Regions from separate parts of the Homo sapiens genome. Here all the other regions are reported to be linked to region 3. Evidence: microRNA targets listed by miRTarBase, many of them from high-throughput screens and not tested one by one. Region 3 holds a microRNA gene; each other region holds the end of a gene's coding sequence.
The links. The annotated mature microRNA hsa-miR-34c-5p reads AGGCAGUGUAGUUAGCUGAUUGC and lies in region 3 at 3,389-3,411, opposite strand. An mRNA with a match to its seed (bases 2 to 7 or 8) in the 3' UTR can be bound and repressed. Matches are read on the target gene's strand: a 7mer-m8 pairs with bases 2 to 8, a 7mer-A1 pairs with bases 2 to 7 and ends in A, and an 8mer does both.

Region 1 (5,072 bases), not on the chromosome of region 3:
TTTTGAAAAGGCCAATGCACTTGATAATGTAATAAAGGAGAAGTCTGAAAATTAAAAACAAAAAACAAAAAACTGTTCTTAATGGTGTGAGTTAGAAAGAACGTTTTAAAAAAAATTTTTTTAGAAGTGTGAAACACCTTTGGAATTGTTAGATGCCAGCAGATCTGCTTTGAAATACAGCAATGTGTTTTGATACAAATTCAATATGCTGAAGAAACAGAAGAAAATTATGTCTAAATATACGTATTTGCCCTATAATTGCAAAGCATTACGGATAGCAGTTTACTGAACTGTAAATGACATCAACTTCTTTTCTCTCATAGGTGATCCTAAAACCTGGCAAAACAAGTGTCTTCCCGGAGATCCAAATTATCTCGTTGGAGCAAACTGTGTTTCTGTCCTTATTGACCACTTTTAACTCTTGAAATATAGGAACTTAAATAATGTGAAACTGGATTAAACTTAATCTAAATGGAACCACTCTATCAAGTATTATACCTTTTTTAGAGTTGATACTACAGTTTGTTAGTATGAGGCATTTGTTTGAACTGATAAAGATGAGTGAGCATGCCCCTGAACCATGGTCGGAAAACATGCTACACACTGCATGTTTGTGATTGACGGGACTGTTGGTATTGGCTAGAGGTTCAAAGATATTTTGCTTTGTGATTTTTGTAATTTTTTTATCGTCACTGCTTAACTTCACATATTGATTTCCGTTAAAATACCAGCCAGTAAATGGGGGTGCATTTGAGGTCTGTTCTTTCCAAAGTACACTGTTTCAAACTTTACTATGGCCCTGGCCTAGCATACGTACACATTTTATTTTATTATGCATGAAGTAATATGCACACATTTTTTAAATGCACCTGGAATATATAACCAGTGTTGTGGATTTAACAGAAATGTACAGCAAGGAGATTTACAACTGGGGGAGGGTGAAGTGAAGACAATGACTTACTGTACATGAAAACACATTTTTCTTAGGGAAGGATACAAAAGCATGTGAGACTGGTTCCATGGCCTCTTCAGATCTCTAACTTCACCATATTACCACAGACATACTAACCAGCAGAAATGCCTTACCCTCATGTTCTTAATTCTTAGCTCATTCTCCTTGTGTTACTAAGTTTTTATGGCTTTTGTGCATTATCTAGATACTGTATCATGACAAAGACTGAGTACGTTGTGCATTTGGTGGTTTCAGAAATGTGTTATCACCCAGAAGAAAATAGTGGTGTGATTTGGGGATATTTTTTTCTTTTCTTTTCTTTTCTTTTTTTTTTTTTTTGACAAGGGGCAGTGGTGGTTTTCTGTTCTTTCTGGCTATGCATTTGAAAATTTTGATGTTTTAAGGATGCTTGTACATAATGCGTGCATACCACTTTTGTTCTTGGTTTGTAAATTAACTTTTATAAACTTTACCTTTTTTATACATAAACAAGACCACGTTTCTAAAGGCTACCTTTGTATTCTCTCCTGTACCTCTTGAGCCTTGAACTTTGACCTCTGCAGCAATAAAGCAGCGTTTCTATGACACATGCAAGGTCATTTTTTTTAAGAAAAAGGATGCACAGAGTTGTTACATTTTTAAGTGCTGCATTTAAAAGATACAGTTACTCAGAATTCTCTAGTTTGATTAAATTCTTGCAAAGTATCCCTACTGTAATTTGTGATACAATGCTGTGCCCTAAAGTGTATTTTTTTACTAATAGACAATTTATTATGGCACATCAGCACGATTTCTGTTTAGATAATACACCACTACATTCTGTTAATCATTAGGTGTGACTGAATTTCTTTTGCCGTTATTAAAAATCTCAAATTTCTAAATCTCCAAAATAAAACTTTTTAAAATAAAGTGCTGGCTTGGTCTGTTTGCCCACTGTTTTCTAGTTTCATGCAGCTTTATAATCCTGTTTTAAAATCCTGCACACAAATCCCTATCACCCAGCGTCACCTACCACCTCGTCGTCTGGTGTTGCATGCAGAATTTCTCCCCTTGGCCAGCATGTACAGATGGGTGGGCAGTGCTCATCTGAAGGGCTCAGACTGAAGTGGGGCAGAAGGACCTGGAGACAGAGTGGGAGAAGGCAGCAGGCCGACTTCCCCCTGTGGGTAAACACACACCCCTGCGTGGAGAAACACCCCTGCATGGGGACACACGTGCGTTTGTGTGTGTGCGTGTAACCATTTGTATATGGTTTTATTCCCCAGATAAATAGCACGGGCATTGTTTAATGTCACCCACATTTGGGGGAAGAAAATGGGTTTAGTGAGCATAAATATTCCATTGTGGACATCCTACTTACTTAACTGCCACCCCTGTTGACATTTGGATTATTGCTATAGTGTTTCAGTAAACACCTTTGTGGACTGAATCCATCTATGTGGATTTTATTTTTTTCATCTTTGTTAAGGTATAATTTACATAGAGTAAGTTACTGTTTTTAAAATGTATAGTTCAAATTTTGACAAACACATACTGTTTATTTACCACGGTTAATACATACAACAGTTTCTTTATCTTCTCTAATCATTTGTACCCCTTTATACTCAACCCTTCTTCCAGCCCCTGGCAGGATGATCTCTTCTGTTTCTATAGTTGCCTTTTTGACAGTGTCATATAAATGGAATCATACAATATGTTGCCTTTGAGTCTGGCTTATTTCACTTAGCATGATGCATTTGAGATTCATGTATGATGTTGCAGGTTCTTTTTTATTGCCAGGTGGTATTCCATTGTGTGGCTGTACCAGAGCTTGTTTATCCATTCCCCAGTTAAGGAACTTCTGGGTTGTTTCCAGGTTTGGGAGATTATTAGTAAACTGCTATAAACATTTGCGTACAGGTTTTTGTGTAAACGTTACTTCATTTCGCTTGACTTCAGTTTGATGAAGTCTAGTTTAATCAGTTTGTTCTTTCATAGATTATGCTTTTGTCATATCTTCACTAAGATGTTCTATCCTAAGAGAAATCTTCACTTAGCCCAAAGTGTAAAGACTTCTCAAGTTTCAGAATTTTTTGTTTTATATTTATGTCTGTGATCCACTTTGAGTTAACTTTATGTGTAGTATGATATAGGTGTTGAGTTTTCTGTTTTAAATGTGTCCTTATTGTAAACACAGACACACATATATAAGGCCTAAATAAGACAGTTTTCATTTAGATAAATTAGGGAAACAATTTATTGTGAAAGGGACACAACTCAGTAAGTCTGTTTTTTGTCCCCCTACCTTTTAGTATGTGGCATGAACACCTGGTCAGGTGTAGATACCTAGAGCTCCTTCCTAAGGACATTTCTGTTGCCTAACCATCTTCCCACAGCACTGAGCATGGTGCAGTGAGTTCATTCAGATGGCCAAGCTTTAGGGTCAGAATTCTGCTTTTGCCCTTCCCCTATACTAACGTTACAATCAACAGAAGGCTTAGTGAACATCCACTAATGCTGCGTGAGTCAGTTCCTCCTCTTGACCTCTGAGCAAGTACTTAATGCAGTACACAAGGCACTGAGCAGATGGAGATGACTCAGGTGAGGAGACACAGACGTTGACACTGGGTGGCTTCCGTCTAGACAGGGAGCAGTTGGCTAGGAAGGGATGTGGCAGTAAATGCAGGAAGGCCACCTAGCAGGCAGATGGGGAGTAAGTTTTCGGTTTTCTTGACTCGCAGTTTGAAAACCATTTACTGGATGGGAAGCCAGGCTCTGTTTTCCGTCCAATTTGCAGAAAGCAAACCAGAGAGCTGTGTACACAGATGCATCCGGGCACACGTTACTGCGGCTGCCCAGCAGCCCTACATGTAGAGAGTGACCTGGCACTCTGTTTCCAGGCTGCTTAGCCGGGTTTCCCCAGATGGAGTGTGGGAAGACACATTGTTGATGTGCTGATTTTTACAGAACCACATTGTTGTCTCCTGATCAATTTGATCACAGCAAAAACTCAGTGGCATTTTTGACTCTTACCTACTCGTGCTTTCCTTTGGAACTACTTGACAGTGAAGGAGCTGTTGCCCAAGATGCAGGAATACCATTTGGTTTAGGGGAGGGGTTTTTTGTTTGTTTTTGGCAGGGGAATTCACTAGGAAGGTATATATTAAACTTGGAAGATTTCTAGTTCAAAACTAAAATGCATAAAACTTTAAATGTTTGTTTTCCATTTCCATTTTGTAGATAATTAGGGCTTTCTTTACCAGTGACCATGAAGGTGCCCCCTAGTGCTTGTTTCTCCCAGCTGATGGGTGTTCATTCAGGTTAGCCAGAAGTTGACACAAACAAGGTGCTCAGAAGAGAGGTCTGTAACCAACTACGACAAGCCTTCCACATTCTGACACTCTCCCTTCCCTCCCTTTGCACCATAGGCTGTTCTGAGGGAATTGTGTCCATAGTTGTCTAGGAAACCACGTGCCAATAAAGACAAAAATTGAGTTTTGTTGCACCAAGTTTTCTGCCTACTGGCGCAATGCCAGGCAGGGAAGATGTGTAAGGTTTTCACTTGGTGCATGAGAGAAGTGCACCTCGTGAGACGCACTAGAGCCCCCATGTGGAACGCCCTCCTCTGGCACTCACCCGCGGAAAAATAGGAAGAGGTGGGTGCACAGGTGGTGATTTTAGCGTGTTTTACCTTGGCTTGATTGTCACCGTAAAGTTTTGAGGTAGTTTGATCTATTTGTCCACATAGCACCTCCTGGTCTTAAGTGGATTTGAAAACATGCAGGTATAAATCATTTCATACCCCCTTAAAAACAGAGAAGGAAAGAAAATGTGGAAACTGACATGTGGTCAGTATGCTGCTGCTGTTTAGTGTTGAGGGGCGTGCCAAGTATTCACCCTAGCAACTCTTCATTTCTTGTCAGTGGGGGTGTGGCAGAAACCGGCTGGAACGACGGCAGTGGGGTTCCTAGAGAGGACTTTGAGGACATGGGGTTTCCCAGAGCACTTCTGAGAATGAGTGTCTTCCATGTTGGATAAGGACAGCTTGAAGATGAGCAGGAACCAAGTGGAAAGCATGAAGGTTGAGACCCAGGGAGCAGCCCCAGTCTTGATACCTACCAAGCAGCGGTTGCCGTTGTAG
Region 2 (5,072 bases), not on the chromosome of region 3:
CGACCTGAACGCAGCCCTGGACAACCTGCGCAAGGTGGTGCCCTGCTACTCCAAGACGCAGAAGCTGTCCAAGATCGAGACGCTGCGCCTAGCCAAGAACTATATCTGGGCGCTCTCGGAGATCCTGCGCTCCGGCAAGCGGCCAGACCTAGTGTCCTACGTGCAGACTCTGTGCAAGGGTCTGTCGCAGCCCACCACCAATCTGGTGGCCGGCTGTCTGCAGCTCAACTCTCGCAACTTCCTCACGGAGCAAGGCGCCGACGGTGCCGGCCGCTTCCACGGCTCGGGCGGCCCGTTCGCCATGCACCCCTACCCGTACCCGTGCTCGCGCCTGGCGGGCGCACAGTGCCAGGCGGCCGGCGGCCTGGGCGGCGGCGCGGCGCACGCCCTGCGGACCCACGGCTACTGCGCCGCCTACGAGACGCTGTATGCGGCGGCAGGCGGTGGCGGCGCGAGCCCGGACTACAACAGCTCCGAGTACGAGGGCCCGCTCAGCCCCCCGCTCTGTCTCAATGGCAACTTCTCACTCAAGCAGGACTCCTCGCCCGACCACGAGAAAAGCTACCACTACTCTATGCACTACTCGGCGCTGCCCGGTTCGCGGCCCACGGGCCACGGGCTAGTCTTCGGCTCGTCGGCTGTGCGCGGGGGCGTCCACTCGGAGAATCTCTTGTCTTACGATATGCACCTTCACCACGACCGGGGCCCCATGTACGAGGAGCTCAATGCGTTTTTTCATAACTGAGACTTCGCGCCGGCTCCCTTCTTTTTCTTTTGCCTTTGCCCGCCCCCCTGTCCCCAGCCCCCAGAGCGCAGGGACACCCCCATCCTACCCCGGCGCCGGGCGCGGGGAGCGGGCCACCGGTCCTGCCGCTCTCCTGGGGCAGCGCAGTCCTGTTACCTGTGGGTGGCCTGTCCCAGGGGCCTCGCTTCCCCCAGGGGACTCGCCTTCTCTCTCCCCAAGGGGTTCCCTCCTCCTCTCTCCCAAGGAGTGCTTCTCCAGGGACCTCTCTCCGGGGGCTCCCTGGAGGCACCCCTCCCCCATTCCCAATATCTTCGCTGAGGTTTCCTCCTCCCCCTCCTCCCTGCAGGCCCAAGGCGTTGGTAAGGGGGCAGCTGAGCAATGGAACGCGTTTCCCCCTCTCATTATTATTTTAAAAACAGACACCCAGCTGCCGAGGCAAAAAGGAGCCAGGCGCTCCCTCTTTCTTGAAGAGGGTAGAAGTTAGGGCGCCGGAGCCCGGGCCTGGAACGCCCTCACCCCCAACCTCCAGTCTCCGCGTTTTGCGATTTTAATTTTGGCGGGAGGGGAAGTGGATTGAGAGGAAAGAGAGAGGCCAAGACAATTTGTAACTAGAATCCGTTTTTCCCTTTTCCTTTTTTTAAACAAACAAACATACAAAAAAAAAAAAAAAAAAAAAAAAAAAAAAAAAAAAAAAAGCTAAGAGGCGACGGAAGCCGAACGCAGAGTCCGGATCGGAGAGAAAACGCAGTAAGGACTTTTAGAAGCAATAAAAGGCAAAAAAAACAAAAAACAAAAAAACAAACAAAAAAAAACCACTACTACCAATAATCAAAGACACAAATATCTATGCAAGGAGGCTCCACTGAGCCTCGCGGCCCGGCCCGGCCCCGGGATGCCCCGCCCGGCCTGCGGGCCGCCCCGCCCGAGCGCGGATCTGTGCACTTTGGTGAAGTGGGGGCCCGCGCCGCCCCCTCCCCCTCCCCAGGTTCTTACAATCAGTGACTCGGAGATTTGGGGCCCCAGTGCCACTGCCCTCCCCCGCCCCGTCCCCGTTGTGCGTCATGCTGTTTTTTAAAAACCTGTTTCCAAATTTGTATGGAATGGCAAACTGTTGGGGGGTCGGTTTGGGGAGGGAGGGTTTGCATGAAAGACACACGCACACCACACCGCACGCACAAGCAGGCCCGGCGCCGGCGTCCGGGGGGCAGAAGGAGGTGAGCTCGCCGGCTCCTCCTCCCCGCGGCCATTCTGTCCCCTCCTGGGGTGAGGGGTGGGGATGGAGACCTGGGGGCAGCCCCACCCCTGCCCGGACTGTGCCTCGGTGGGTGCCACCTGGCGATTTCCGGTGTCTGGAGAGAGTATTTTTTGGTCCAAGGAGTCCTCTTGGCTTTAGCTGGTGGGTGGGCGGGGAGAGGTCTGAGGGCTCCTACTGGAGGTTCCCCCAAAAAGGGGCAAAAGGAGACCCTCTGCCCACCGGAGGCAGGGGATCAGGCATCCAAATACACGATGCAAAAATGCAATCCCACAGGCGACACACCCACACACTCACCCACACACACGCAATTTTACCTTCCTCTTGTAGCGAAGATGAAACTCCCGTCGGACACCCGAAGTGCATTGCGTGTTTCTGTTCAGTTTAATGACGATTAATAAATATTTATGTAAATGAGATGCAAAGCCGGACCGGTTTCTCACGGTGGCCTCATTTCATTGAGGGGGGAGAGAAGGTTTGAGCTGGGGCTGGGGTGATGAAGGCAGAGTGTCAAGTGACTGTGCAGAGGCCAAACAGAGGGACCCTGGACATTCTTGGGTAGTATTCTCTCCCTAACCACCCCCCATACACCCACTGGGCTATACTAGCTACCCCTCCCAGACCCAACCCAGGCTCGCACCTTCCCAGCACTAAAGCACTGATATCCTTACACTTCTTCATTCCTGAACATGCACAGGCACCTCCCTTGAAAACAAAATACCTTTTCATCACTGAAAAATGATCAAGTTGGGAACAGCCAGTCATTTTACAACTCTCTGCCCACTGTTGCAAAAAGCAAGTGGGCAGAGACAAAGAGACAACCATTTGAATCAGACAGGGGTATTTTTAAACAAAACAAAACAAAACAAAACAAAACATTATAAGGTCATGAAGATGAAATATTAATGAGGGAGGCCCCTTTTTCATCTTAAAATTGTATTTCGGTGGACTCAGGGGAATCGGCCATTTTGGTCTCAGGAATGTTGACATGTTTAGGGGTGTGGACAAGGTTGGAGGAACACCCCTAGAGGTCTGTGAGGTGGCTGAGTCTGGGCGCCCACCCAGTAGAGAGGAGCCTAACCATGTACTCCCTGGGACAGGGCAGCAGGCGCCCACCCAGTCCAAATCTGGGCTGATTTCTTCCTGTCTGGTACAGTTCTGAACAGAGGGAACCCTAAGGGCTTAGAAGGGAGGAAGGGCACTGGGTGAGCATCTCCTGCTCAGACAATGTGGCCTCACAATTCTTTTTTCTCTGAACCTGAGAGGCAGGGGCAGCTCTTAACTGACTTCCCTGATAGAGTCCCTCCTACTCCCCCTGCTCAGCCCTCAGTGCATGCTGTAGCCCTAGAATATTTGAAGAGGGTTCTGAGCCCCAAAGACTCCCATCCTAAAGCCTGAACACATTTAGGAGTCCCCCAAAGAGGCTGTTTCTGATGCTGCTCATTTAAATGATTTCTCCAAACACTGTGACTCATTTTAGGGCTGAAGTGGGGTTTGTAGTGTTGGGGTTGAGGATTAAGGTCAGGCATGCAAAGGCTTTTAAAGATTGGGTCCAAGAACCCAAAATAATATCTCCCTGACAAGCAGGAAAGGGAAAGATTGTTGAAGAAGGAAGTCCTATATATTGAAGGGTGGATCAAATTATACTCTGAACTTGAGCTCATTGCATCCCCTAAATGTCTGTCCTCAAACCTCTTCTGTCCCCCAGTAGAAAGAATACCCTCCCGGTGGTCAGGACAGCTGTCGGCAGAGGCGCCAAGGCCAGGAGCTGTCCACTGTGGCATGCTGACCCTCGTCTAGTGTCTTTTCTTCTGGCTGCAGAGGGAGGTCCATTTGCCTGACCCAGGGGAACATGGAGCAGGAGGCCCTTTCCAATGCTGCACTGGAATTCTCCAGCAGTTTTCAGAACATTTACCAGCATTCTTTCAAAATTTCACTGCCTTCTCTGGAATTCTCCCGGCATCGCCTCTCTAGAGTGAGATCACAGACTAGGGCCTTCATCCCCCGGATGTGTCCCTGTCTTCAGCATCTTAGAAACCTCTGAATCACTCCTATTCATGGAAGAAAGGAGTTGGCCCATCTTCCTTCCCCCTCACTTATTGCAGGGAGTGTAGAGCAAGGCACATACCCCAGATCCTAACCTGCAAAAGTCTGATCTGCACTCATGGCGTGGAGCAAGGCCTGGCAGGGGCAATTGCAGAGAAAAGGAACTTGGCACTTATCCCGAGGCCTGATTCTTATCCTGCCCTGAGAACAAGGTTAATTGGGCTTCTCCCCTACTCAGTCAGTTTCCTAGAACCCGCTCAGAAGTCCAGAGCTGGGCGGGATCCAGGTGGCTTGGGGCCTGAAGCAAAGGACCCCTCCATGTGGCTCTCCTGGCCAGACCACAGACTTCTTTCTATGCATTGTTCTTCAGCTACCCTACGTGGCTCAATTCTGTTTTTGAAGCCAGATTCCAGCCCTTTTAGAAAGATGCTGATGACTTTTGGGCCTCTGTGAGCTGTGATCACATTGGGTGGGGGTGCACAGGTCCCTTTTGGGACAGAAATCCCCCCGAGTGACTCAGCTTCTGGTGAATCCCGGCATCCACACCAGTCGCCCCTTTCCCGATTTCTGACCCTTCCCCCCACATTCCCTGCACTCTGGCTGGCTCTAGCCTCTCATCACCCTCCTCCCCAGTGCTCAACTTCCCTGGCGAGATGGTGTGATGAGCAGGAGAAGAAGATGTGCGCGGACAAGCGGCCCCAAACGTCCCCTCGCAGGTCTCTTTCTCTTGCTTGCTCTCCCGCCTGCGCACACACACCCAGAGATGCTCCAAGAACAGAAGCAGGGGAGGGAGGAGGAAAGGGGCCAGCGCTGTGCCTGGCCTGGGGAGAAGGCACAGAGAGGACGCCCTTCTTGCCCTAGCCTCAGCGGCAGGCTCTCCAAGCGTCCACCAGCCGGCTCAGCTCAACCCCTGGGCCGCTGAACCCGACGGCTGGATCCAAGTTCAATCAGGAGGACATCTTCCTCTTGATTTTCCAGACCCCATTCCAAGTCCAGCATTTGGAAGATGACAGAGAAAAAGAGGTATCT
Region 3 (5,072 bases):
GCTGATTTGACTACACCAATGTGTTTAATTCCAGCCTTTAGTCAAAACAGGTCTAGATGACAGACTCATTCCTCTGATCATTTAATTTTGACCTATTAAGACAATTAATTCTATTTGATTTTTCCTGTTCTTATGATTTTTTTTTAAGACTGTGTCTCACTCTGCTGCCCAGGCTGAAGTGCAGTGGTGAGATCATAGCTCATTGCAGCCTTGAATTTCTGGACTCAGAGGATCCTTCTGCCTCAGCCTCCCAAGTAGCTCAGACTACAGGTATGCACCAGCAGGCCTGGCAAATTAAAAATTTTTTTTTTTTTTGTAGAGTTAGAGGTCTTACTATGTAGCCCAGGCTGGTCTTGAATTCCTGGCCTCAAGGGATCCTCCTGCCTAGGTCTCCCAAAGCATTGGGATTGTAGGTGTGTACTACTGCACCTGGCCTCTTATGCTATTTCTGTTCTTAGAACACTGTATATGGTTGGGGACCTTACTGGATGGAAAGTGTGTGACTCTACCTCTTTCTATTTCTCTCTGGTTCTGTTGTTCCTATACATTCTTGGACTTTTGCTGAGATTGATAATAGCCAATGTTGAATAGAATTTTTAAATTTTCAATTAAAATTCTAATAAAGGTTTCCTTAATTTGCTCAAGCTGATGCACTAGAAGTAGCAGATTTTTAAATATACATGTGTTTAAAAAATCAAGATTATTTAGAAATTTAATGATGATCAGATGACCTTCTGAAATATTGGCCTACCTTTTGGAGATACTTTACTTTCTCCTCAGATTCCTGTATCTTTAGGGCTTCGGCAAAGATGTCTCTATTTTCTAGAGGGAATAAAGTCAAATTCAATCTGAAATAATTTTATTATGATTTTATACTAAAATTGATATAAAATTGGACATGGGTTGAAAGGGAATACATAGAGTAGGAAGGTAAACAAAAATACATGTGGTGTATTGGAACTTTACAAACCAGATTTGCAAACAACTGGAGACTGAGTTAATTAGCTATGGCTGCAGGGAACCTCTAATCTCTTTAGATGATGAGTAAGCTCGAGTCCAGAGACAAGAAAAAGTCTCGAAAGAGAGCATATCTGCAGGATCAGAGATTCCAATTTCTACATTCCTGTTCAAACTGTTAAAGGAATTTAGGCATTGTCCTCTGGATAAACAGGGTGGTCCCTGAGCAGGGACTTAGGTGTTCAATTCAGAAAGTTATACCACAGTGTAAAGTAGTACCCTTGTACTTATTGTCTATTTTCTGATGAACCTAGGAGTCAGAATGTTGAAAGGCATAAAACTTGGTACTTACTGTTACTCGCAAGGTGAAAAGACTGCGAGGAGTGGCTGTTTTCTAAAAAATACAAAAGGGAAGTAAAGAAATCATTGGAAAAGTCAACAACATTAAAGGCGTTTGAATTTTTTATACTATAACAATTGCATAACAGTTTCCACATCCTAGGCCTCACTAAGGGCTCACAGGTCCAGGAAGTTCATTGGTAATGTTGACTCCACCTTCATCTTTCTCCAGGGCTTTTCATGTTTGAATTAAACTATGTAAACTATCCTTTCAGCCAACACATAGCATTTCCTCAGATTATTCTATACTGTTTACCAAATAGATGCCATAATTTAAGGGAAACTTATATGTTTTTAGATGTAACATATATACCACTGATCCTTTTCGGGTGGAAGGGTTGCTGGAAGGGTTCAGGAAATATTTATACATGCATTTGTATGTACTTATAACTATTTGTATATACCATTGCAGTTTCTCCTGGAAAGGGCTCTGGTACCTGCAGGCCAGTTACGGTGAGGCAGATATGACTGACAGGAGGCCGCTATTCTACTCACCAGACCCTCTGCTCCTCCTGGGCCGCGCCACCGGCAGACGCTGACTGCTGTCTCTGCGCAGCACCAGCTGAGATTCGCTAGGGGGATACATCGACGCCGAGATCCAGAACTGCTTAGCCAAGTTGGCATCTTGTTCCGAGGAGCCAGCAAATACCAGTAATCCCGGGGGGCACATTTCCTGGGACTCTTTTCGGCCGCTAGGTTCTTCGCTGGGTCCCGTTTCCATGGCAACTGAGGACGCTTCTGCAAGCGTCCTCTCCCCTCCCCCCGCCCCGCCCCTGCCCCGCCCCTCCGAGAACCGCCAAGTTGGTACCAGCCCCTGCCGGCTGCCCTCGGTTTCCTAGGTAGGTGTTGGGATCCGCCACGCGCGTGGGGGCCGTCGGAAGCCCACCCCTGCGGTGATCAGGTTTTAGGACCAGTCCAAATCTTGGATATGGGAGAGTCAAAACGTCAACTTTGGGTTGTGTCCTGTCGGAGTCAGTGGGGGAGTAGTTTAGCTTCTTATATCCTCAGTGGGCTGCCACATCCTCTCCCCTCCCCCCAGAAAGATAGCTAAATAAACTTTAAATTCCTCAGCCCCATTGCCCCAATCCCCACTTCCAAACCAGATTGCCAGGGACAGCACCTGCTAGGTGGAAGTTCTGAGAACGTTGCGCTGGAGAATTCACGCCTGAAAGCCTAGCCCTTGGGAGCTAGAGGCCTGAACTGGGCGGATACGTGCCCATGTGTACAGTTTCTGTGATTTTAAAATTCTGAATCCTTTAAATCTTAGGAAACAAGCTGGATTTAAAGTGTAAGTGCATTTACTAATCACTCCCACTAAAAGTTGCATAGACTCCAACAGTTGTAAATGATTACTTAAAAGAAGGGATACATCTTAATGAGTGAACAGAGTCTCTTCATGGAAAAAAGAAGTATGAAAAATTTTGTTAATGTATTTCTTATAAAAGTATTAACAAGTCTGTGTGTATGAGTAGCTTTCCCGGGAGATTTTTGTCATGGCAGGAACAACTTAACCACTTCATTGATAGAAAAGTTAAGATTACTGTGGCAGGAACTGAGATGGACATCATAAAGTCAATTTAGCAAAGGAAATGGACACATAGCAATAACCACAATTTATGTCTTTATGGCACTTTATTCTTTCGAAATATTACTAACAATATTACTTTCAAAATATTACTAACAATATAGTCTCAAGAAGTTAATAATCACATGTTCATATAATAACATACATCAGTCAGCTAAGAAAAAAATCATATTCCCCCTTATATCTAAAATTTTGGTTAAGAGCCTGAAGGAATATTGAAAAAAAAACAAAACAAAACCCCACATACATACACATTACATACATTGTAAACTTAGTAGCTGAAATGTTGATTTTTTTCTTTTGGCTGAGCAATTAATAGGCAATGGATGAAATCAGCATTTTCCAACACCCCTCTTCCCCACGCACATTGATGATGCACAGGCAGCTCATTTGGACGAATTCCCAAATCTTTTTACCTGGCCGTGTGGTTAGTGATTGGTACTATTAGCAATCAGCTAACTACACTGCCTAGTAACTAGACTCATAGAAAAAATTGCAGTCTCAAGTTGGTACCCCAACACGTTGTGACAGGCAGGCAATTCATTGGTTGAGTTGGAGCTCAACTGAGTTGCTAGCTTGGTGAATACTCTACTAGACGATGGCAAATAGACACAGTGAATCACAGCATACAGTATTAACCGTTACATGGATGGAGGGGCTTCACCTCCAGGGATTTTGCTTTCCTGGCATGAGACTGTTTCATCTTCTGTGACTCCTAGAGAGAGCTAACAGTTTAACTGTATCTGGAGAAACCGCGGGTTTCCTCGCACTTGCAGCGGGCGCTCGCGGGGCAGGCTGCGCAGGACCCACGCCGACGCCGCGCTTCTCAGGCATCTTCTCTCGAAGGCTGCGGGCTGCCCGAGCCGGCGTCTTCTTCCCGGCCGGGCGGCGGTGATGCTGTGCCTTGTTTTGATGGCAGTGGAGTTAGTGATTGTAACCACCACAGTACAATCAGCTAATGACACTGCCTACAAACCGAGCACCGGGCACCCGCGGCTGCAGCTCCCGGACGGTCCGCAGCGCCGACGCGGGGTCGGGGCCCGCCTCGGACCCCATTTCACCGGGGGACGCCCTACCATGGCTGGGCGCAAGCGGCCCCCGAGGACACCCCCGGGCCCAGCGGGACCCCCGCCGGCCTCGCAGCGCACAACACGCGTAGCTGGGCCAGCGGGCGGCGCTGCCGGGGAGGACCCGCGCCCTCCCAGGCCGGGAGCCGCGCCCCGACCCCCATGACCCCCAGGAGTGCCAGGCCTCCCCTTCCCGCAGCCTCCCGCTCCTCTCAGGGCCCTCCCGCTCAGGTTCCCCTCGCTTTTCCTTTCCCCTTCGCCTCCTCGGCCCGGGCTCCCACTTCCTTCACGCCAGGCTTCAGTTCCCAGCCCCAAACCCTAGAGCTGGCTCTCTCGACCCCGTGCGCCCCGCCGCTCTGAGCGGCCGAGTGACTGTGGCGGGGGCGACCAACCGTCCTTGGAACCCCGCGGGCCGAGGGGCGGGGCGGGCGCGAGACGGGGCGGGTGGGGGAGGGGATGGGGGGGGGGAGGAGGCTGAGAGAAAGCGCTGTGGGCGGTCCCTGAAGGGCCTCCAAGGGAGACGCCTAGAAGATGGAGGCCCAGATTCTTGAGACGTTTCTCTTTCTGATCTAGCAGGAGGGACAAAGAGCTCCTCCACTCCCTCATTCCCCAAGAAGGCCCCCAGCCTACCCAGTTTCCGTGACCATTCCGCCCTGGGAAAGCGGCTTCCCAGGTACCTCAAATTATAGGTTTGAATTTTCCAAATGGAGGTGGGCTTGGGTAGCCTCTGACATATGGGAGGATGGCTTGGAGAGTCTCATCTGCACCTCTGTGCTCTGTTGGGGACTTGGCCTTATACTCTTAGAGGGCCATGCAGTGATGTGAAGCCTGGGCCTTCTAGTCAAATAGTGAGCCAGGCAGCTTGTTAGTTACATCAAATCGTGGTCCTCTTGAGATCAAGGCCATACCATTCAAGACAGTATATATATAATAAATTACTAAACTAGGGACTATTTAGAATAGTAGAAACTATTTGTATCAGAAATAGAAGGGAGGTCCTCAATGAGAGCTGTAATAGGTCAAAGAAGGTTCCCAGAGGAGGTGAGACTTGAGTAGATCCTTGA
Region 4 (5,072 bases), not on the chromosome of region 3:
CCTGCCACCATGCCCGGCTAATTTTTTGTATTTTTAATAGAGACGGGGTTTCACTGTGTTAGCCAAGATGGTCTCGATCTCCTGACCTCATGATCCACCCGCCTCAGCCTCCCAAAGTGCTAGGATTACAGGCGTGAGCCACCGCGCCAGGCCTAAAAATTCTTTATTGCAGTTCTCCTATCTTAATAAATTGGCTCTGTCTGGGCAGCAGGCAAGGAGAACCCATTGGGTGGTTACAAGAGTGCGCCCAGGTTCAGAGGCTAAGTGCTTACAAATGCTTCTTGCTGCTGAAAAGTGAAAAGGACAAAAAGACAATAGGTATTATTTAGTGAAGGTGAAAAAATTTAAGAGCTGGCTGTTTGAGTAGGTTAAGTGGCCAAATTTGATAAATAAGGAAGATATAAATGTTCCCATGCTTGGGCCAATTTTCCTTGTGAAATTCTTAAAGACAGGAAGGCATAAACTACTCCTTTCACCATCATAACAAATTGTGACTATTACAACATACACAATCACAAGTACATGGCAAACTCTAAAAACTATGTTATTAGTGATTTGTATTCATTCAGTAGATACCTATTGAACATATACCATATAGTACAGTTGGTAATAAAGGTAGGACGGGTTGTCAATGGGTGTTTAATACATAGTGATAAGCTATATTCAATTAAAAAAACCTTCAATTTGATTTCTTACGAAGTATACAGCTCTCCTAACTTCGAATTCTCCCTTTGAAAGCAAGCGTTCATTGTTTGAAATAGCTCTGTCTGTCCCTACTACTGTTTACTGACATTTTCTACATTTTAGCATCAGACCAAGTTTTAGAAATTTTTATAACTTGATTATCTTCTCCTTCCACCAAGCTGCCAAATGACTTGTTTATTTTGCCTCTCAGTTTGTCCAGATAAAGTTTATGGCTCACACAAATCTAGCCAGGTACATACCAGTAACTCCAAAGGGGGAAAGAGGTGAGTAAAAAAAGAAAAGCTGGAAGTCTTTTAATGTTAACATTTTATTTAAACCAGTACAAGCACCATGCTTAACAAAAGACTGTCCAAAATAAACATGCAATATGAACTAGCAGAGACTGAAACCACAGCTTAAGGAGTTGTGTCAGTTGTTGGTTTTGTTAAACGATGACAGAGAACTGTTAAAATTCACAAGACTAAACCATTAATGTTTCAAGCCTCCTGAATGAGATTATCTTGGACCATCTAAATCAGTGGGAACTGCCCTGGCATGTTAATGATCTCAAACAATATTCAAGTAATTATATTTATATGAATTATAATCCAAAAAGCAATAAAATACAATTTCTATCACAAGTTTACTGTATATGAGCACTGATTTGAAATGTCAAATGGCATAATAAAAACAAATTTCTCAAGAATATTCAGCTTGGGAGCATTGGTTTTAAGCGGTCTAGAAGATTACTACATTCTTCCAGAAATACAAAATAAGATTTGTCCAGAAATGTTTGAAACACATCCTCACAAAAGTTGTAATGGCTCAAACTCTATAAATTCCAGTATTATCAGTCTATTGAACAAATAGGGAAAGCAACCATAGTAAGAATACTTGAATTGATAGAATATGAGTTACTCTCTACTTCCACCAAATATCAGCATTTAAACTCTTATGAAAATATCTATTCATCACTAGTCCACATATGGATTAATGACATTGCTCAGGTTTTAAAAGCAGTCCAAACATTTTTTAAGTACACCTTCCTTAATATCTATATGGGTTGGGGGGAACAGCCAAATTTAATTTGGCAATAAACTCCCCTAACTGGAAATTTTTAGCTAAAGTGTCAGACAAGGATACAGTTTATGGCTACATTTGACTCCTGAAAATAGGAGATAAAAAAGGAGGGAAAAGTGCTGACACACATTTTGCCACACAGATTATTTAGTAATGACAGTAAAAAATTTAGCAACACACACTTAAACAAGAGTATGTTTAACTGCACTAGGCATTTAGTAAACTTTTAGAACTAGACAATTTGAACATTTTAGAAGTCAATTAAACAAAAACAGTCAACCAACTTTTTTCCTAATATAATTGCGTCAATACCAGAACAAAGTGATCACTATTCAAAACTCAGACATTTTGGAATTTCAGCATAGTAACCTGAGAAGTTTTCTTCGTATGTATTTTTGTTGTCATGGAAACCACACTAAATAATACTGTGATTACCAGTTGGTTCTATTTTGACATTAGATGCTATGCAGAACTTATGCAGGGCCAAAAATTTCAAAACTAACACTGACTTAGAAGACCACGAAGGAGGATCCCAGGAAAAAAGTTGCTGCTAAAAAGGACTCAGATTTAAGGCTGAATGGGAATGGTTGTACCAGAAAGATAACGGAATGTAAAAACTGGAATTATGAAATCTGGAGTTATTATTTGGGAAATGGCAGAAAAAAAGACAGTAAATACGAAACATACTTGAAAAGAACAATGCAAAATTTAGTAAGATGAAAGGGAAATCTATATAAATGTTTGAGAACATTTTAGAGCACGGGATTTGTAAATTTCCCCATAGGACAGATGGAATAAAAATGTCCTACTGATCCTCTAACCTCAATCTGTTGTCTTGCCAAAAACATGTTATTAATTAGGAGTCAGACAAGCTCAAAAAAGCATGGTTTATCACAGCTCTTTGCTCCTGTTAAAGACAGTAGCGGAACTAAGAGTGCTAACGTATGGCAGGTCAATATTATCTGACATTATGGAGGACCTCCAAATTTAAAAATAAGCAAAACTAAAACATGCAAGACAAAATAAGGAACTTCATTAAAAAATACATTCTTGCAGCACTAGTTTCTCTTACTGCTGCAAAACAGGTGAAACAAAACCTCATTTCCTTCATTCAAAAACATTAAAAACACTCTCCACTCACTTGGATTACATGTGCATTCCTACAGAATTATATGCATGTTATTCTCCAATATCAAAATACCTGTTTAAAGAATTTTTAAACTTCCTGGGTGAGTTTTCTCTTCTCTCTGGAAATTGGAATAAAGAATCTTTTCCCTCCAAGAACCAAAACAAACACCTACTCTAGCACTTCCTCATCTCCAACTTTCTATTGCTTCCTGACTTCTAAATTAGTGAAGCCAAACAGTGTTGGGAACAGAAGATGTTCTATTCAATATCGCAAAAATTCCAACTATCTTTACTTCTCACAGAAACCTCAAAAATAAAATGCAAAGAACATATGAATGGAAAACATGCCAAAATTTAAATTTTGCTAGTTTTGAGATGACTAAGATATTCTTAATATAAGAATACACTCACCAAGTTTGGTTAGTTTTTAGAGTCTCTAGACCTATTATCAAATTAATGTTCAATGGTTACTTATGTATTTGTTTTTACAAGTATGCCAAATATCAGAATCCTCGCTTTATGCCAAGAGTACCATCATCTAACAAGACTGGTTTAGTTAACTATTCAGGCATCCAGTTCAGAATATCTTCTGACATTTAGGATATAAGATGTGATTGCTATTGAAGTGTTAATGTTATTAACTATGGCCAAAGTTTTAAGATAATTTTTTCCTATGGCACAAAACTAACCACAAGTATACCCAAAATTATAACTCTCGACTGCCATATATTCACCAATGCAAGCAGATAGTTGGAATTTTTAAAATATGAAGTTGATTTTATTACAAATTTCAGATATACACATTAGAAAATTATTTTATTTGGACCCTTTAAAAAAGTATTAATTTCACCAAATGTGGAATACTGGCAGTGTAAAAGTCTTAAACTAACTTTAAAGCTAACAAATCAAAGGCACAGTATTAACACATTTAAAATAATTAGTGTTCACAGGACATTGAGGTGCTTTATAAATAAAGTGTTATTAACCTAGATTCAAAACTGTCTAGAAATGACATAAAAGGAATGAAGCCCTTGATTATTACAACCCACCAATTTCTAAGACTAAGATGCTATAAGGAGAAAAGCTAACAGTCATAATTCTATCATAAAATCTAACTCCCGACCTTAAAAATGAGTGACTGATGAACATAGTTTCTAGACTTGATTAAAAAGATACAGGAAACCAAAGAAGATACAGAATTCATCAATGTACTTGTAATACAGGTTACACTAAATTATTCATGGCTCAATACTGGGTCACTCAAGTCTTTGACCCCAAATGAATTTCAATGATTTGACAAGTGATAATACGCTATTTTCATAAATAAACTGCTAATATCCAGTATTTGTCAAAAGGAGGCAACTGTTGTCTCTCACAATCTAATATATCCACTTTCCAATGGTGTCTGTAAATAGTAACAAATTCCGAACCATAAGTTATAGAAATTAGTCACAAGAGTGCAAAAAGTCCCTGGAGAAAAGTAGTCCACCTAACAATTACCAATATAAGGAAACACTTTACAAAGTTTCATTACTATGAAGATGATTTCCTCTTTGTTCAAATTTTGCACAAATGAAGAATTTTTCTTTACTGCAGGAAACAAACTGTAAGTAACAGTGCATTTTTAGGCATAAATAAGTATTTATGTCTGATTCCAGTATGGTCAGGTTAATACATAAATACTTTAGAAACACAGAAGTTCACATTAGTGAAAAAATCCAAGTTTCTCACGTAACCATTCTTCAGTTAGGTCTTCGGTATTTCTTATTTCAAATACCTTTAAAAAAAAAAAAAACTTGGGTCATACTTTGACACTCCAAAAAAAAAGTCAAATATTTGAATTTTTTAAAATATATTTGAGTATTATACACCAAACTATTTTTGGTTATATATTTGAGTATTAAATACCAAATTCTGCTTCCTTTCATATTGTTCATGACTTAACCTGTGTAAATGAGATATACCTTTTAGGTAGAACTTCACTTCTTTTAAATGCTAAGTACTCAGTTACCAAAGTACAGCAATCAAGACAACATGAAACCAAAACTCTCCCAAAAGCACAAATCTACAAATAGTCTAAAAGAGCAGTTCTGTAAATCTTATCTCCTAGAAGACATCCCAAGTAAACACAACTAAAATCAATCTAGTTAGGAACTGAGGAACATACGCTGGTCTTCCAG
Region 5 (5,063 bases), not on the chromosome of region 3:
GCACCTAGGAATGTTCTTCCATCCCCGCCTCCGAAGAAGAGAGAGGCTCTTCCCAGCAGCAGGCTAGGGAGGAAGCTGGGCTCACCTGTCTCCGCCCCCCAGGTCCGGACCCTCCGTATGCACCTGTTCACGGCCCTGCAGCTGCTCTGCCTGGCCCTGCTCTGGGCCGTCATGTCCACAGCTGCCTCCCTGGCCTTCCCCTTCATCCTCATCCTCACAGTGCCGCTCCGCATGGTGGTGCTCACCCGTATCTTCACCGACCGAGAGATGAAATGTGTAAGCCCTCCCGTCTGCCTCCCCCGGTTCCTCTTGCCTCCCTGTGGATCTGGAAAGGCCCCCCCACTTCCCTTCTTGACCGCCACCTCCCCACACACAGCTGGATGCTAACGAGGCAGAGCCGGTGTTTGATGAGCGGGAGGGTGTGGACGAGTACAATGAGATGCCCATGCCTGTGTAGCCGCCACCGAGGGACAGCCGAGGGACCGATGGACGAGGGGACAGGCTGGTGGGATGGGGTTCCCCCTCCCATGCCCCTCCCTCCTTTTTATTTAAGTGAATAATTTAAAGTCTTCTCCTCCCCCACTGCCCCTGCAGTAAAGTGCTTTGGCCCCCACCTATCTGTGGCCTTTTGTCTTTGTATGGGGGGCGGGGCATGAATGGAAGAGGCGGGGGACTCAGCTCTGCTCCCCGTCCCAAAACTGAGATTCACAACGGGGAAGGAAAGGAACTTTAATGAGAAATCAAAACACAGGGAACCAAAGTGCAAATCATCCACCCCCCATGGGGGGGCCATCCTGAACCCCACATCAACCCCTCAGCCCCCTTCAGGCCCCCAGCGCAGGCCCAGGGCCTGGAGCTTCTGCCTCAGGTAGCTCTTGAGCTGGGGCAGGCCTCTCTGGGACTCCAGTTCCTCGAAGGGTAGCTGTGGGGAGAGGAGAGGGCGGCAGGTTACCCGCAGGCTGGGAGTGAGGATGCGCCACGGGCCAGGCCAGGGCCACTCACCGGCAGGAGCTGGTAGCCCATCAGGCCTAGGTGCCGCTCCCTCAGGGCCCTCGAGCCCAGCAGCACCCGGCCGTCCCGGCAGAAATGCCAGCGTTCCCGCAACACCAGCACCACCCTGCAGGGGGAGGGACGTGGCTCAGGGCATGGCGGGCAAGGTGGCCAGGGCTCCCCCACCCTGCCTCCTTTACCTCTGGGCAGGGTCTCGAGTAGTGGCGCTAGAGGCAGCCTGGCCCTGTGGGCAGGACCTTGGTGGGTATGGCAGGAAGGGGTCCTGGGTCCTCACGGGAAGCACAGCACCAGAGCTGCTGGCGCACAGCAGGAAGTCTGGAGGGGAGCAGGGCCGGCGGCCTTAGCCAGGGCTCCGTCTCCCCGGGCCTGCCGCCTGCCCCTTGCTCACCTGTGCAGTAGCCTGGAGGCACAGTCAGGTCCTGGCGGTATTTCTCCTCCCCCAGCAGCTGGCGCAACCCCTCAGCTACTATGTCCTTGTGACTGAGGAGAAAGGACACCAGTAGCAGGAAGGGCCCGGCACCTCATCCTAATCTGTCCCAGTCTAGTGCCACCACCCTGGGCAAAGCCCTCTGCTGCTTCAGGGCCCAGTTTTATGGTGGCCGAGAGCTCCTTAGCTTTGGCGCTTCATGGTCCCTCTGGCTTTTCCACTCTGCTGGTCCCAGGCTGGCCCCTCCCCTTGCCCCAGGCTGCCCCATCCACCTGTACTTGCAGCGGGCACGGTCGGTGATGAGAGGCTGGGGAAAGATGGGCACTTGCTGCCTTCGGGGAAGGCGGGGACCCCGGTATCCTGGGAGCTCCAGCTCCACGGCCGTGTCCAGCAGGGAGAGGTAGCGACGCACAATCAGAGCATGAGGGGTGCCTGTGGGGAGGCGGGGACTGGGGCTCTGGGCTGCAGGCCACCCTGCTCCCCTGCCTCTCCAGCCCTCAGGGGCCCAGCCAGCCATCCTGGCTGCGTACCACTGATGTAGTTGATGAAGCCAGGGGAAAAAACAAAGTGCAGGGCTCTGAAGGGCAGGCACCGCAGTTGGCACAGTGACATCAAGATGTTGACTGTAGCCAGGGGTGCCACCCCTGCTTCCCGAGCCAGGATCCTCTCAAGGCAGGGCATAAACTGCTGTTCCAGGGGCAGGTAGTTCAGTCGCCCAAAGGGCAGGACCAACTTCTGTACCACCTGTGGAGGAAGAGCAGTTCATTACCCAGTGTCAAGTATTTCTGCAGTCATCTTTTACAAGCTAAGCCTTAGAGAGGCTTAGCCCTCAGGTTTACAACACTGCTGTAAAGACAGGACAGTCCCTCCGGCCTCACAGTTCAACAGCAAAGCAGTCACGAGCTGCACGTGACTAATCACCAGACAGGCAGAGGGGACATCGCTGTGGGGTCTGGCCCTGAAGACTTCGAGAGGGATGGGTGGAGCTAGGATGCTGCTAAGAGTGCTTTGGGAAACTGCAGATTTCCAGGAATGCATGCTGCTGACAGGAGGTGGGCAAGCCACAGAAAGGGTGTAGAAAAGATGCAGGTCCCAGGGGACAGAGAGGGTGTGTCTGCTTCAGGAAAAGGATAGCCGAGCTGCACGAGGCGCTGGGCCTGACAAGGTCCCTGAGAATGACAGAGATGCACTGGAGGGTGGGTGGCAAGCCCACCTTGCTGCTGAGTTGCGTTTCCTGAACCACCAGGAAGTGGGCAATGGCTTCCAGAAGCTGGGGCTCCCGCAACCGGTGCCGGGCCAGGTGCTGGGCCAGGAGCACCATCACGTGGGGAGTCAGTTCCTCTGGCCTTGCCTCTGTGAAGAGCAGCCTGTCACGCTGGGCCTCAGCCGGACCTCCGGCTGGCTCAATTCCACCTCAGCCCAGCCAACTGAGCCCACCTTCCTCCTCCTGTCAGCCCTCCCCACCCCCATCTGATTTTAACCCCCTCCAGCACCTGCCAGGCTGCTGATCAGATGCTGCCGTGGATACCGCAGAAAACGGGGGCAGCTTAGAGCAGCTTCCAACCCTTGCCCACCTCGGAGAAGGGGCTGCAAAGGGGGAGGTGGCTTCGGAGGGAGGCGGAGCCTTCGCTCCTGTTCCAGGGCACACACCAGGGGACCATCAGATGGAAAGCCTGAGGGGGAGAGGTAAAAGGCAGCCTGGTAACAGAGCTGTGCTGCTGTTCTTATCATGGGGTTACTTGGTGAATTCTCCACCTTTCTCCTCTCCCGTTTCCTGAGCGGGAAGGTGTGCTAGAGTTTAAGTGCAAACACTAGAGACATGTAAAGTATCATGTGGCTATGAGGTATCGAAACGGTTTGTAGGGAGTACATACAAAGATGGCAAATAGGCTTTCATCTCATACCAATTGTGACAAATTATGGTGGCTTCCTAGGGCACTCTATTAGCAGGAATCTGGGGTGGCACCCTAGCGAGGCCGGAAGGAGTGCGTTCGACTCATGATGTCTGCCGCAGACATAGGACGGGAGCAGGAGCAAGCGTTCCTGGGCAAACGCCTGAGAGGCTGGGTCTCTGTCCGTGGTCCTCTACTGTTCTCCCTATTCTTCATTAACACCTAGCCCCCCAGGCGCCCACCTCAAGCCCCTCCTCACCAAGTAAGACTGCAAGGTGCAGACACACGTGGATGGTGTGAATGTCAAAGGAGGGGCAGTTTCGGATGATGAGCTGACTCAAGTCCTGCAGTGTGACCTGCTCCACAGGAGGGGGCCGTGGCCGAGACCCCAAGAGCTGGCCCAGACGACGAAGCGCCACCGAGTAGTGGTGGGCGCGCACCTTGCTGGGGTTCTGGCCCAGCCAGCGCAGCAGCTCCCCAGGGCTCTTCGCCTGTTCCAGAAGCCGCTGCAGTCCTTGCACAGGACCTGCACTGGGGCCTCCTCCAACAGGCCGGTCCCCCCATTTGCTGGGCCCCAAACAGCAGGGCTGTACTGGAGGGATCAGCAGCAGGCCAGACAGCCGAGCAGGGGAGGTCTGAGCAGAGAGCAGGACTCGAAGCATGGAGTTGGGTGATGGAGACCCTGAGGGGCAGCCCAAAAAAGGGGGTGAGGTTTTCTCCAAAGGGGAGAAAGACCTGCTACCTACTGCTTACCTCACTCCTCATTTAGGGGGCCTGTGGTCAGAGCAAGCCTTTGTGACTGCTCTGGGCCTCTTCCCCACCCCGCCCCTCTGCCTCCTTCCACGCCTTTGAAACAGCAATCATAATCCTCAGTGCGCTCAGCGCAGCACTACTTGCAAAGCAATTCCACATGCACCATCTCTGATGCTCCTTACACGCCCATGAAGAGTAGGCAGGGCTGGCATTACCTCATTTCACCGGTGGAGAAACGCAGGCCCAGAGCAGCGAAGGGGTTAAGTTAAGCCCGAGGTCATTAACCGGGTTAGTGGTCGCGCCCAGTCTGGAGCCCAGGCGGCACCGGCGTGCACTCTCCCGACCACCTCCCTCTCCCACAGGAGGCGGCGGCGGCACAGAGGGTGGAACGCGGGCTCCGCGGCTGGACGGTGCTGGGTTCCATGCTGGGCGCTCCCACTCACCAGCGGCGTGACCTTGGACAAGTGGCTTCGTCTCTCTAAGTCTCCTCACCCGTGAAATGAAAACGCAGCGCCCACCTCGCAGGGCGCGCGTGGAGCCCGAGTGCACCGCTTTGCGATGGCGCGGAGTCGGCGAAGTCGGGGGCCCCAACACCCACCCCGGCCCAGGGACGCCAGGAGACCGTGGCCGCTGCCGCTAACACCAGCTCCCGCTGCCCTCCCGCAGCCCTCCCCGCAGGCGCCACCCCTACATGACTCCCCGGGCCCTGCGCAGGTCGCTCCCTCAGTCGGTCTCGGGGCCCGGGGGCCGGGTTCCCCCCGCGGCCTCCTCATCGGCTAGCCACCGAGTCCGCCATCTTCCCAGCAGCCCCTAGATAGCCGCCCGGACGCCAATCCCGAAGCAGCTATCGGTCTTCGGAGACGTGGCTCCCGGCAGGCACTGCGAGCCAGGGAGCCGCGAGCCCCGCCCGCGGGAAGTGCGCGCCCGGCGCCGAGGGCGGGGCCACGGAGGCCGGCGCCAAAGCCAGAGCAGAACGCTGG
Region 6 (5,072 bases), not on the chromosome of region 3:
ATGAGGAAAACACTCAGCTGTATCTTCATTAAAAGGCATTTTACATTTATTAAGGCTTGAAAGCAAGTCCTGTTATTCATCACCATAGTTAAAGGTCTCGAGAAAATCAAGTAACTATCATTTGGAGTGTCTTTGTAAAATGAAACACTTGTTCTTTTACAAAAGCTAAGCATCTTTTGTTAAGCTAGTTAACTCCCCAGCTTATAAAATAGGACAACGAGGTGGCCAGGAAAGTAAGACAAATTCAAACATCAGCTGGATAATTTATATTTTAAATATATGTATAGTCAATATTGTGAAATCTCTAACTCTACATAAAATACTTCAGATGACTGGATCCTTAAAAGTACATTTTACCAAAAACAGATTGCTTCTATAGAAACACAGAATAGCCCAAACCTTATATTGAGGCAACGTATTTTATTTATTTTTGGTTGCAAGAAAGGAATTGGATCTATTTCTTTAACGTTAAATGAAATTATGCACACTTTGGATCATACATAATTATGAATCGAAAGTATCCTGACACTAAGCTGGGAGATGCATACTGACAAAGGGGAAGAATGTGTGTTGATGAGGAGGGCACATGTTGCTTGATTTGAATGATAAAGAGAAATGGATAGAAGACAATGGGGCTGTGTGCAGCAGGTCCTGTTCGCTTAAGTTTTCCTAACATCAGAATCAGGGTGCTTCACATGCACATGTCTTTCTCTGATGCTTTCTTAAGATTCTCCTTAATGTCATTTAAAAAAATAAGAAAGTGATCCCTTGGGAATCATTGTACTTAGTTTTAACCATGAGTTAACATTTCCTTTTTCCAAGGAGGATGACACCAGCATCTTGATTCACCGTGCAGTTGAGATGGCCCCTGGCCAGTGGGAATTGAGGCGAGTCACAGAAGTACTTACCAAATACTCACCTGCTGCTTCTAGTTTAATTTAATTTTAGACACACACTCTCACAGTGATGCTAAACTCTTTACAAGATAGACCCGCAGCTTCCTGCCTCTGCCTCTCTCTTAGTTCTATTTGTCCAGGCCTTGCTGATTTCTGGGACTCTCATATGGTCAAGATCTATTTCAGGCATGACCTATCTTATGACAGTTCTAAGATGCTTGGTATTGTCTGTCTGTGGAGTGGCCATGGGGCACAGAACTGTGAAGAGCTTCTGTTGTTTCATTTGATAAGGGCCTGGAAAGTCAGCCTGGGAAAACTCGCACTTGGTGTGGCCTTTTTCTGATAAGATCAAGACTTCACTGGCCCCACCAGCACAAGAAGGGAATGCTGAGGACAGGGCCATTTCCCAAGATAAAACTAGTTTGGGATCGTGTGGCCAAATAAGCTGATGGACTCTGTTTCCGACATTTCAGCTCATTTGCTTAGTGCTAGGTCACTCTACCTCTCGTTTAAAAGAATATAGCTATGCTCACATCTGTGACTCTGAATTTATCAAGCATTTGACTTTCTTTATCAGGAGATGAAGAAACTGTGCTTTGGATCCATCATGATTTTACTTATCCAGCTTACTTTTTACAGTTATTAAAATCTTACTCAATACCTTCTCTCTGGGCCAAACTCAGAAGCAGGCATTGCTGACTAGACAGTGAATTCAACTCAGTCATTCTGAGTTTGACTCTTGCTTCTGCCTTCGTCTCCCACTACCCTGCTTCCCCCACCCCCAATAGTGCTGTGCAAGTCAAAGAAGATAAATAAATACAAAATAAAATAAGATCTCAACACAAATACATCCCCTTTCTGTGCCACCAAAATGCTTTCTGAGCGATTTGTATTCATTCAGGACCAATGAAAAGGAAGCCTCCTACCCTATAGCTGTATAGTTGTGGGGTCCCAACTGCAGACCCTCCCGTGCTCCCTGAGTTGTTCTTGGGACACCTAAGGACCTCACCACACTGTTGCTGAGACATGATGTGCTGCACATATGATAAGAAGGCCAGACAGGCTGAAGCATCTGGAGAAAGATCTCTTTTGAAACAAAAAAAAAAAGGAAGGTAATATTAATATTATTGTTACTTTAATATACCATAATAAATCTAGTCATAAGACACCATAACTAACTCTTAGTCCATAGTCACTTGCATTATATGATAATCCAGTGCTGAAATATAAAGAAATTTCTGAATTAAGTACCCAGAAGTGCCTTCCTTCTGTACTCCTCCCTCTCTTTCAAATGGCTATCATTGATCATATAACACCCCCACCTCCTTGTCTTAATATATTTATCTCTGTAAAACTAGCTCAACCACAGAAGGGACATCTAGAAACAGCAATATTGATTTGGTTTGGCCTGTTTGTTTTTAAGGACTTTCCAGTTGCTGAATTCTGAACATCCAATCCGAGTCCTTGGAATTCTGCAGACTTCTCTGGGGTGGAGTGGCCTCACCGGAGGCTTGGTTCTGTTTTCTCTGTGGCAATTGGCTATGATTCACAGATGTGTTTCCAGAACAGCCCAACTGTGGGTCTCAGGGAAGTAAACTGCCTCTTAGGTCATCCTGCCTGTGCTGTAAATTCGGGGAAGGATTTCTGAGTACAGCAGGATTTCACACTAATTAAAAGGCCTTCGGGATCATTTCAGCCCTCATCCCCCAGGAGGCCAGTTTGGGGCTTTTCCCTACAGTAAAAAAGGACTCTTTCCTCACCAGTTCTCCTTGTTAAACATCTCCAGGGCACAATTTCCAGGGGGACCTGGAAAGGTTCCTTTTGAGGTGGAAATGAATCAACTCATTCCGCCTTTTCAAAGCTTTCTCAGGCTTATAAAGTGTCCTACTGAGAAAGTTCCTCTTCCTCAATGGGCTCTAGGAGACCTCCTGCTTCCTCTCCTCTGATTTGATCAATGGGTTACTTTTTTTCTTCAGAGATCCCTGGAGGCAGGTAGGTCCAGGGATTGCTTGGGTTAGAATTTGTTGATATTTCTATGGAAAGGACCCGTGCTATCCTGCCCTTGCTGAGAAATGAGCCAAGTCCAGGGGCTTTCCAGCACTTGGGAGCCTCACCCTTTACCAGCGAACACTATAGAAGGGGGATTGTTGAAGGTAAGGGCCTGTGGCAAATGGATTTTCTCACCGGGCGTTCACTGGGAGAAGGAGTTGATGAGTGCATTTTTCTTAGTTTCCTCTGCACAGGTCCCCAAGCTCAGGCTGGGTAAGCTTTTTAGGAGATGAAACTTAAGGAGAATGACAAAAGAGTGAAATATTAGCTTAAAAATTTTTCCTTTTTTTTTTCACCTGGCAGTTGAGTCAGATTGTAGGAAAATTAACCCAGATGGGTCTACATTTTTCTTCAAGTTCAAACCACATGGTTTCCTAGTCAGAAAGTCTCATGGACTTTCTTCCTAAGGTGTTCTATGATCAGACCACCTCCTAAATGTGGCTTTTACCCATTACAGGCTACAGTTGAATCAGGCAGGAGCAGCTGCTGGAGAGCACCCAGCCGACAGACCTGCATTCCAGAAGCAGCTTGGAGAAACTGGGAAGACATTTTTGACCCATTCTTGGGTTTTTACTGTAAGGTTAGCAGTTACATGATGCCACCAGTCCAAGACTTAGATCATGAGAGAAGGCCTTTTTAAAAGTTTACCAGGGAACATCGAGGCTCATAAAGAACTCTTTTGTCTTCACCCATCTCTCCTCCTCCCACTCCCATCCACTTTCTCATAGCTCAAAAACCACTCATTGGTAAGCACAGTCAAACCCAGGCCTGTAATCACCTCTGAAACAACTACTCCTAAGCAAGCAAACCCCATGGCTGGTAGACCCCGTGGGTATTTTGGCATCAACACTGCTCCCCTCCCCTCCCATCCCAGTCACTGCAGTTTAGAATTGCATGCCAATTTCCTTTTCTGGCAGGGCCTGGACGGCATGGAAGCCAGGGACAGCATGGGCCAGGTGCGCAGCAGCAGCAGCGCAGCATTCCTGGCACTGCAACAAACTGAGAATGTGTCTCAAGTGACTTTCCAGTCTGGCCCTTAGTGCCCAATAACCAGAGTGTCAGAAGTAGTGAGACTGAAGCTGTGTTTGCCAGACACCCAAGTCCATAGCCAGCTCGGTACTCCTCCATTCACTCTCTCTGTCTCCCCTAATGGGGTAATAGATCTCTTTCTAAGAAGGATGAAGATGGCGTTTGTCCTTGGCCTTGTAGGTATGGACGGAGAGGAGGGTAGAAAAGGAGTTGGTGTTGCATGTTTCTAAAGCATCTGAGAAGGTATTTTGATATTGGCAGAAGAAGCTAGTGGCAATCCCATATGTGGGCTCTCCAACACTGACTGACCCCAAACATGCTGAGCCCAGATCAGGCTGGCCGGCCGAAAGGTGGACTGTGTCTATCATTTCTGCTAGATTCCTATGTGAGGAGGCCAGGGATGGTGCTGACCTTCATGAAAGATAGCAGGCTGGAGTTCCCATGATACCAGCAAGATGAGGCTTGATTATAAAAAGTGCGCCTCAAGGCAGTGATACAGAGGAGTCTATGAAGCTGGAGTCTTAGGGGAGTGGTTGAGTCCTTCTGCAGCGGGGATGGGGCAAAATGGCTGTGCTCAGGATCGGCTGAGGCGTTTGGCGACATCAGCGTAGGCCAACTCGATCTCACTGTCAGCTGCACAGGTGTTGGTGAACTCATCACGGGCATAGGCGTTCTTGAGGTACCGCCACAGGCCTGTCATCTCAGCCGGGATATCATAGTTGCGGTATTTCTTGGCCACAATCTAAAACAGAGATGGCAGGACAGAGGTGGTGTGAAGGCATGAAACAAATCATTAGAAAGTGTTAGTGGCCGTCCCAGTGTGTGTGCACTGCAGGAAACCTCCGTGCATCACCACGGGCCATCAGTGATATGTTTGAAATGCAAGGTGGCAGTGCTGTCTTCTTTTTGTTTTGTTTTAATTTAATTTCTTAAGTAAACATAATTTGCCCTTTGACCTAGTGTGTCAAATTCTAGGAATTTTTTCTCAGGAAATAATCATGGATGGATATAAAGATTTACCTACACAATTATGATCCCAGAGCTATTTTGAATAACAAAAATGGTGCACAGCGCCAAAGTCCAACAATATATGAATAC

Region 1: the mRNA of TJP1 is a reported target of hsa-miR-34c-5p. The part of its 3' UTR that is shown has no 7-base or 8-base seed match.
Region 2: miRTarBase lists NEUROD2 as a target of hsa-miR-34c-5p. Seed matches in the 3' UTR shown: 7mer-m8 at 1,772-1,778.
Region 4: the mRNA of GMFB is a reported target of hsa-miR-34c-5p. Seed matches in the 3' UTR shown: 8mer at 3,757-3,764.
Region 5: miRTarBase lists SLC4A2 as a target of hsa-miR-34c-5p. Seed matches in the 3' UTR shown: 7mer-m8 at 581-587.
Region 6: the mRNA of CLIC5 is a reported target of hsa-miR-34c-5p. Seed matches in the 3' UTR shown: 7mer-m8 at 4,461-4,467 and 7mer-A1 at 3,243-3,249.

The regions. Positions count from the first base shown.
Region 1 is chr15:29,696,941-29,702,012 of GRCh38, reverse strand. It overlaps TJP1 (tight junction protein 1), which reads left to right. Exons shown (of 28, transcript NM_001330239.4): 28 at 324-1,861. The coding sequence ends at 418. Among named protein-coding and RNA genes, the nearest start is that of LCIIAR, 25 kb to the right of the region's middle.
Region 2 is chr17:39,601,124-39,606,195 of GRCh38, reverse strand. NEUROD2 (neuronal differentiation 2) reads left to right here. Exons shown (of 2, transcript NM_006160.4): 2 at 1-2,428. The coding sequence ends at 745. Among named protein-coding and RNA genes, the nearest start is that of NEUROD2, 4.3 kb to the left of the region's middle.
Region 3 is chr11:111,511,790-111,516,861 of GRCh38, reverse strand. MIR34C (microRNA 34c) reads right to left here and starts at 3,423; the gene lies at 3,347-3,423. It overlaps BTG4 (BTG anti-proliferation factor 4), which reads left to right and starts at 4,476. Exons shown (of 5, transcript NM_001367975.1): 1 at 4,476-4,681. It overlaps HOATZ (HOATZ cilia and flagella associated protein), which reads right to left and starts at 2,084. Exons shown (of 6, transcript NM_001100388.2): 1 at 1,852-2,084; 2 at 1,310-1,351; 3 at 752-822. The coding sequence starts at 2,077. It overlaps MIR34BHG (MIR34B and MIR34C host gene), which reads right to left. Exons shown (of 2, transcript NR_147706.1): 2 at 2,974-3,844. It also overlaps MIR34B.
Region 4 is chr14:54,473,491-54,478,562 of GRCh38, forward strand. GMFB (glia maturation factor beta) reads right to left here. Exons shown (of 7, transcript NM_004124.3): 7 at 995-4,669. The coding sequence ends at 4,598. Among named protein-coding and RNA genes, the nearest start is that of GMFB, 13 kb to the right of the region's middle.
Region 5 is chr7:151,075,911-151,080,973 of GRCh38, forward strand. SLC4A2 (solute carrier family 4 member 2) reads left to right here. Exons shown (of 23, transcript NM_003040.4): 22 at 103-276; 23 at 377-613. The coding sequence ends at 457. FASTK (Fas activated serine/threonine kinase) reads right to left here and starts at 4,899. Exons shown (of 10, transcript NM_006712.5): 1 at 4,775-4,899; 2 at 3,590-4,012; 3 at 2,932-3,111; 4 at 2,652-2,791; 5 at 1,969-2,182; 6 at 1,711-1,870; 7 at 1,400-1,491; 8 at 1,191-1,326; 9 at 1,003-1,117; 10 at 714-922. The coding sequence starts at 4,856. The coding sequence ends at 815. RefSeq lists enhancers at 1-313, 314-1,289, 1,290-2,265, 3,242-4,218, 4,219-5,063 and silencers at 1,092-1,171, 4,634-5,063.
Region 6 is chr6:45,898,540-45,903,611 of GRCh38, forward strand. It overlaps CLIC5 (chloride intracellular channel 5), which reads right to left. Exons shown (of 6, transcript NM_016929.5): 6 at 1-4,716. The coding sequence ends at 4,549. Among named protein-coding and RNA genes, the nearest start is that of CLIC5, 110 kb to the right of the region's middle. RefSeq lists enhancers at 328-881, 2,389-3,077, 2,479-3,678, 3,382-4,226.